2 linked regions of the Homo sapiens genome follow. The gene in region 1 interacts genetically with each later gene. Each region holds a gene or a part of one and is shown in the gene's direction. Other genes may lie near its edges.

Evidence for each region.
Region 2: changes in PTPRE (region 1) and ITGB7 together harm fitness more than expected from each alone (negative genetic interaction), as found in Homo sapiens cells (one large-scale study listed by BioGRID).

What each region holds. Positions count from the first base shown.
Region 1 is NC_000010.11:127,909,947-127,913,759, forward strand, and holds part of PTPRE (receptor-type tyrosine-protein phosphatase epsilon isoform 1 precursor), read left to right. Parts: intron 1-3,813. UniProt on the Homo sapiens protein: Isoform 1 plays a critical role in signaling transduction pathways and phosphoprotein network topology in red blood cells. May play a role in osteoclast formation and function.
Region 2 is NC_000012.12:53,197,121-53,200,933, reverse strand, and holds part of ITGB7 (integrin beta-7 isoform a precursor), read left to right. Parts: intron 1-480; exon of another isoform or gene 481-487; 5' UTR 488-490; coding exon 491-691; intron 692-2,982; coding exon 2,983-3,184; intron 3,185-3,270; coding exon 3,271-3,441; intron 3,442-3,813. UniProt on the Homo sapiens protein: Integrin ITGA4/ITGB7 (alpha-4/beta-7) (Peyer patches-specific homing receptor LPAM-1) is an adhesion molecule that mediates lymphocyte migration and homing to gut-associated lymphoid tissue (GALT).

The sequences.
Region 1 (3,813 bases):
TGGCTTGGACCAGAGACACCCCAAGTGACCTCCCAGGGAGGCAGGCTTGGGAGCAGGGAGGGAACAGGATCGAAGCTGCCCCGTATTCCCTTGCTAGACAAGTCTTTTTCATTTATAACATTTGAGTCACCCTCACAGAAGTTCTGTTGCCAAAGCAGGAATGAATGTATCCATTAGGGTAAAGACTGGCCTTCTTAATATTTGAATATCACTTGGGAAGAAAACTACAGTTCTAAGAACATCTCTAGTTTTTCTTTTGGCTTTCTTCCTACTGACCCAATGGCTTTGTCTTCCATAAAGCTCCCAAAGCTTTCCAGATCCCAAGACTCAGCTCCCTGCTCTCAGCCTCCTTCCCCTTTATTTCCATCTTAGAAACTCCTACCCATACCTCAAGGCCCACCTCAAAAGTCTCAGTCTCCACAAAGCCTTCCTGGCTCCCCTACCTGAGAGGAATCTCTCTTACTCTTGGTTCCATAGAACGTTATTTCTGCCTGTCCTAAAGCACTTACTGGACTTGACTTTGATTTCCAGTTCACTTGCTCAAGTAGTTTATCTCCTCCACTAGGCAGCCAGTGCTTTAAGGGTGGAGGGTGTGTCTCTGAGAGCATGTACTTTGGGTTCAGTCAGTCAAGTTCTGACTCTGGTGTGACCTTGGCTAAATGACTCAAAATGCAGGCTTCAGTGTTCTCTAGAATGGGAGTAATCATCGCTACTTCCCAGGGCTGCTGCTGTGAGGGGGACATAGGATACATATAATTGACAGGCCGCTTGGCTGGTATGCAGTAAACTGTGGTTATCTTTCCCCTACAACATCTAATGCTGTGCATTGCACATGTAAGAATCAGTGAAGTTTGAGGCCGGGTGCAATGGTTCACACCTGTAATCCCAGCACTTTGGGAGGCTGAAGCACGCAGATCACTTGAGGCCAGGAATTCCAGACCGGCATAGGCAACATGATGGAACTCTGTACCAAAAACACAAAAAAATTAGATGGGCATGGTGGTGCACACCTGTAGTCCCAGCTACTCAGGAGGCTGAGGTGAGAGAAACATCTGAGCCTGGGAGGTCAGGGCTGCAGTGAGCCATGTTCACACAACTGCACTCCAGCCTGGTTGACAGAGAAAGACCCTGTCATGGAAAAAAAAAGAATCAATGAAGTTTGAATGAATACATGAACCAAGCCAAAAACCATACAAATAGATAGATACCTTTTGTGCATCATCCAGATCAGTAGGTCAAATCAGTGTGGTGTGGCATGCCAGATAATTTTTGCATGGCAATCTAAATGATTATTATGTAAATTTTGCGTGATTAAGTATTTTAATCCCATAATGTTATCACTTACCATGAAGGCATTCATTCTTCAATATGCACCATTGACTCCAGTGATCGATGAGGCAGAAATGCAACTTGCTGTGCACATTAACCAGGCTCGTGGCCTGAATTAAACCAGGCTGGGTGTGAGGCACTGCAAAAGCAAACGAAACCCACCCCTGAGAAGCAGTGTGGCCTAGAATCAGGTGTCTGGAATCAGGGTAAGAGAGCAGCTTCTAGACCAGAACATAAAGCTAGGAAGCTGTGGCCTACCCTAGAAACTCTCAGAACTTCACTTTGCTTATCCAAAGAAAGGGGCTGTCCTGGGCCATCTCTGGGCCCCTCACAGCTGCTGCACTTCCGCCCGATTTCACCCCTTCCCCACCACTGGGCAGGAAGGGCTGCTGACTCCGTACAAGGCTGGATCCCAGGCAGGGAGGCCTCCTGTTTCTTGGCTCAGCATTTGGGCCACGTGTCTCTCTGCTCTGGACACCAAATCTAGAGAGAGTGAGGAGAGGCCCGTGGGTACATGTAGCGTGCTGCCAATTTTAGGTACTGGCCCTAGACATATCAAGAGTTTATTTTGGAGGATTAACTTCTCATTATTTTGTCACTAGGATTTTTTTTTTTCACCAAAAGCAGAGTGCTGGATGATATTTTAGATGGCTGGGATTTTAGATCAGCCATACCTGAGGCAATAAGAGTTGGTCGAATGTTACCAATCCTTGAGCAGACACAGATGAGCAGTTGCGGGGTCGTTCGCTGCTGGATGTGGGCTAGGAGACCCCTGGTTTGGGGATTATGAAGGCAGCCTCCTTTTCTTCCCTGGGCTCTGGCTGCTGTTTTCCCAGTCATACCCATCATGGTCTGCCCTGTCCAGGTGTTCCATGTGGGGAGTATTGATGTGGTGCCCAGCCTTTGAACTGTTAACAACACCCTGCTCACAGCCAGAAATGTGGGCCCCACATCTTTCTTTCAACTGTATGAATACTTCAGAGGCTTTGATTGAGCTTAAGAAATACAAATTCTTAACAATATATTTCAGAAAAATAAACATATCCTTTTATATTGATTCCCAATGAAATAGGGGCCAGATAAAATATTTTAAAAGGGCATCTGTTTTTAAAAATATCTTTCAAATGCAATCAAGAATGTTCAGTTAATCCGGTCCATTATGTATATTGTAACAAGTAACAAAAGGGGCAGAGAAATCTTTCTCCCAAAAACAAATATAAAGTCCAGCAGGGAGTAGGGAAATGTTTGAAGAAAAAAAAAAGATTCTTAGTTATGTGCTAAAAACCAAACGTGTTTTGGGCAGGTGCTTTGATGTTAGTGTTTGTTGGGTGGAGAGTAAAGAATTGATAGGAAAACTTGTTTGGATCCCAGGTCTGGGTGCCAGCTACACTACATTTGATCCAATGGAAGGGCTAGCATGGGAACAATAGCATTTGGTGTGAGCGCCCTGGGCAGGTACATGACTCTGTCGTCAGCTCCCAGGGATGGACAGCCAGTCCCACAATGCCTGGAGCTCAGAGCTCACTCTGTGCATGTATGTGACATGGAGAGATGGATGGATGAAGGTAATAGAACTGAGTAGGAGCCTGTCCAGGTAGCAGTGGAGGAGGCCAAGTGGCGGAGGCCTTCCCTGCCATGATTTTACTCTGTCTGAATACCAGCAGCAAGTGGAAGCCACGGGGCTTTATTTTCAAGGGAGGTGACACAGCCTGGGGCTCAGGGAAAGGACTTAGGAGCAGAATGACTGGGATCAGATGGGGGCCCATGAGACTGAGGCTCTGGACAAGGCAAGGGACTTCCCCTGGCCCAGTGTGAGCCCAAGTCTTTACGGTGGGGAGCATGATGCCGCCAAGGCAGCTGCACGGGGATCGGTGGAGGTGGTACGCAGAGGCCTGGCCCCATGATCACCAAAGGGCCAGCGGTCTCACACAAGGCAAGGGCCCAGGGGACCGGAATCAAAGGCCTGAGATGATGTGAGCCCTGACTTCTCCTCTGCCACAGTCGCTTTGTCCTCAAGGCAAGTCATTTAATTCCTATTCAATAAATGCACAAACATAATTTTTGGTTATTAATGTCCCTAAATCTGTTTGGACATTTCCAGCTGAACATTAGTCACCAGTTTTGTACTAGAGAGAAAATTAGTTCCATCTTTCTTCTCAACTGAGATTTTTAAATGTCCTATCACATAGCTACTTGATTACAGTGTATTATTTTAAATGACCTCTGTACTAAGTCCTTTTATTTTGGCGTCCTCTCACTCCAGAAGGACTTGGCATTGGCATTTTTCAGGCTGTGTCTCCACAGTAGGACTTTCATAGGTCTGCGGTGCAGACTGGTTTGCTGTCCACAGGCTTGGCCCTGACTCCTCGGCTAACATGCACAAGGGCGCTCTGAGGGTCGGGAACGCACCCACCAAGCACAGCCCAGACGAAATGGAAGCTCCTGTCCAGGCAGGTTCCCGGTGAAACTCTAGGGAGCTCCAGC
Region 2 (3,813 bases), on another chromosome or scaffold:
TTTTTAAGACAGATTCTTGCTTTGTCACCCAGGCTGGTGTGCAGTGGTGTGATCTCGGCTCACTACAACCTCCGCCTCCCTGGTTCAAGCAATTCTCTTGCCTCAGCTTCCTGAGTAACTGGGATTACAGGTGCACGCCACCATGCCTGACTAATTTTTGTATTTTTAGTAGAGATGGGGTTTCGCCATGTTGACTAGGCTGGTTTCGAATTCCTGAGCTCAGGTGATCCACCCACCTTGGCTTCCTAAAGTGCTGAGATAACAGGCATGAGCCACCACGTCCGGAGGCCCCTACCTTTGCGTGATACCTGCTCCTTCCCATTATTTTGAAGAAACTGCTGAATCCACAGGGGAAGTGAAACTATGAGGGGAGATAAAGTGTTGGGGCAGAGTTTTGAGAGTGATAACCACAAGCTAAGTTTAGAGGACTGAGAGTTTGAGAGTCCTCCCTGAGGACCCACATGTCCCCCTTTATATCCTATTACAGGGCATGGTGGCTTTGCCAATGGTCCTTGTTTTGCTGCTGGTCCTGAGCAGAGGTGAGAGTGAATTGGACGCCAAGATCCCATCCACAGGGGATGCCACAGAATGGCGGAATCCTCACCTGTCCATGCTGGGGTCCTGCCAGCCAGCCCCCTCCTGCCAGAAGTGCATCCTCTCACACCCCAGCTGTGCATGGTGCAAGCAACTGGTAAAGATGGGCCTATGGTCTTTGAACCATGTGTATGTGTATGTGTATGTGTATATGTATGTGCAGCCTGGATATATGTGTGTGATTGTGTGGGCACATGTATGATTTTCTGGGAACACTCCACAGTCTCATGTGTGACTGAGTTTGTGCACATAGGACTCCTGTGTGTGGATATACGTGTGTGCATACACATGCATGCAAGTTTCTTGTGCACTTAGGATTATGTCTGTATCCATTTGCTTGTGTATATATGGAGAGAATTTGTGACCATGAATTGGGAGAAAGTATGTGCTTGTGGGAATTCATGCTTGTGTATAGGTAGAGGGAGCTGTTGTGTATGTAAACATGGGAGAAAGGTACTACCCAGTGCGGGCTGCCATAACAAAATACCATAAGCTGGGTGGTTTAAGCAACAGGAATTCATTTCTCCTAATGTTGGAAGCTGGGAAGTCCAAGATCAAAGTGCTGGCTGATTTGGTTCCTCAGTTAGGGCCCTCTTCCTTGCTTGCAGACTGGCTACCTTCTCGCTGTGTCCTCACATAGTGGGGATGGGGTTGGGGGATGGGGGTGGGAACTGCCTCTCTTCTTGTAAGCGCACTAATTCCATCATGAGGGTTCCACCCTTAGGCCCTCATCTAAGCCTAGGTACCTCCCAAAGGCTCCATCTCCAAATACCATCACATGGAGGGTTAGGGCTTCAACAGAGGATGGGGTGGGGGTGGGGAGGGGTAGGGGTGCAGAGTTCAGTCCATAGCAGCAAGTGTGTGGTTAGATTTCTAAGTCTGTGTTTTGGGTGGAGGCATTCTGTTCCTGGGTGTGTAGTAGCCTATGACTGGACAGGTAGAAAGGGAAGGGGTGGAAGCATATGGGCTTGAGGGGGACTGGAAAGGCTTGAGCTACCTAAGTGGCCAAGAAGGATGCTAGGGAGCAGGTGTCTCCCTGGCTCTTCAAACAAAGCTGTTGTTTGTTTATGCTTTAAAGAGACAGAACTCATGGAGCAGCAGAGCAGGAGGGGTGCCCAAGCTGGGATGGGGGCAGGTCTGCCTCTCTCAGTGTAAGATGGAGGGTTAGATCAGTGTGGGAGCCCAGATAAGAGATGGGGGCAAATTCACATGGAAGCAGAGCTACAGATGCTTAGAGGACCCAGGAGAAAGGCACACAGGGACCCAGGAGAAAGGCACACAGTGAATCTGACTGGACAAGAAGGGTAGATACTGAGTCTGCACAAGGCAGAGAGGCAGAGGTGCCAGGCTGGAGCTGGGGAGCTGGCGCTCTTGAGATGGTCAGGTCTGTGTCTGGCTTCTCCAGTCTCCTGACACCTAGGGCCAGCTGAGAAGCCGCTCTAACCATTTCCTTCCCCTGTGGCTTCCCAACCAGTCCCAGGGATACCAGACATATTGGTGGGGAGGACGCCTCCTCTTCTGTTCTTATCCTTTCCTTTCCAAGGAGCTGTGGGTCTTAGTCTGACCACCTTCCCATTTTGGTGTGAGCTTGCTGGGGAGGTTGGCCTAGGAGGCAAGGCCCCTGTTTTTTTGTGGTAGTGAAGTCTCTAAGATCTCAACAGGAAGTCTGTGACTCTATTGGGGAGGAGAGGGGTAGGTGGCTGGGGCAAGGGGGAGTTGAGATAGGGGAGGGGTGGGGGACTGCTATAGGAAGTGGGGCTCTGACAAGGAAGAAAGGACCAGAGTTCCACCGGTGGCGGTTCATGCCTGTAATCCCAGTACTTTGGGAGGCTGGGGCAGGAGGATTTCTTGGGGCCAGGAGTTCGAAACAAGACTGGGCAAAAAAGCAAGACCCTGTCTTTACAGTAGGAAAAAAAAAAAAGGCGTGGTGGTTCACGTCTGTAATCCCAGCACTTTGGGAGGCTGAGGTGGGCGCACTTGAGGTCAAAAGTTTGAGACCAGCCTGACCTATATGGGGAAATCCCGTCTCTACTAAAAATACAAAAAACCTGGGCGTGGTGGCACATGCCTGTAGTCCCAGCTACCGGGAGGCTGAGGTACGAGAATCACTTGAACCCGGGAGGTGGAGGTTGCAGTGAGCGGAGATAGCACCGCAGCACTCCAGCCTGGGTGACAGAGTGAGACTCCGTCTCAAAAACAAAACAAAACAACAAAAAAGACCGGAGTTCAAGGGTAGCTGTGGCGAGGAAGAGGGGAGGGAATCAGGGACTCAAGGAGTGGACTGGAGGTGGGGGCATTAGAGGTGGCCGGGTTTGCAGGGTGTTTTTGGGAGCGGGGCCCAGGGCCTATGCAGGACCGGGTCCCGACGCGCCTTTTCTTGCTGAGCAGAACTTCACCGCGTCGGGAGAGGCGGAGGCGCGGCGCTGCGCCCGACGAGAGGAGCTGCTGGCTCGAGGCTGCCCGCTGGAGGAGCTGGAGGAGCCCCGCGGCCAGCAGGAGGTGCTGCAGGACCAGCCGCTCAGCCAGGGCGCCCGCGGAGAGGGTGCCACCCAGCTGGCGCCGCAGCGGGTCCGGGTCACGCTGCGGCCTGGTGAGTTAGGGGAGGCGGGGCCAGGCCAGAGGTCTAGGCTGGCGTTCCAATGCGCTCTGCTGACCCGCCCGCCGCCCACCCCCTAGGGGAGCCCCAGCAGCTCCAGGTCCGCTTCCTTCGTGCTGAGGGATACCCGGTGGACCTGTACTACCTTATGGACCTGAGCTACTCCATGAAGGACGACCTGGAACGCGTGCGCCAGCTCGGGCACGCTCTGCTGGTCCGGCTGCAGGAAGTCACCCATTCTGTGCGCATTGGTGAGCCGAGCGCTGCCTCCCGCCCTGTTAGCCCTTGCCTATTCAACCACTGCCCTAGCCTCTGCCAACATCCTGGACTCACAAGGGCCCCAACTTGCCCTCCCAGTTGTTGACAGGCCTAGCCAGGCCACAGGTTCGTTCCTGCATCTCTCCCTAGACACCCATCTTCTAGGTCAGAGCTGGAGAGGACTCAAGAGACTATCCGTTTTACAGGCCTGAGACCCAGCGTCTGGAGAGACTGTGCTCAGGCACTCTCTGGGCCTGGACAGCTGCCCTGGGCCTACCAACCTGGAACCTGCCCTGATGCAAGTCTCCCTGGACAAGACCTAGATGCCACTGTCCCTGGCTCCACATTCTGTGCCAACTCTCCTC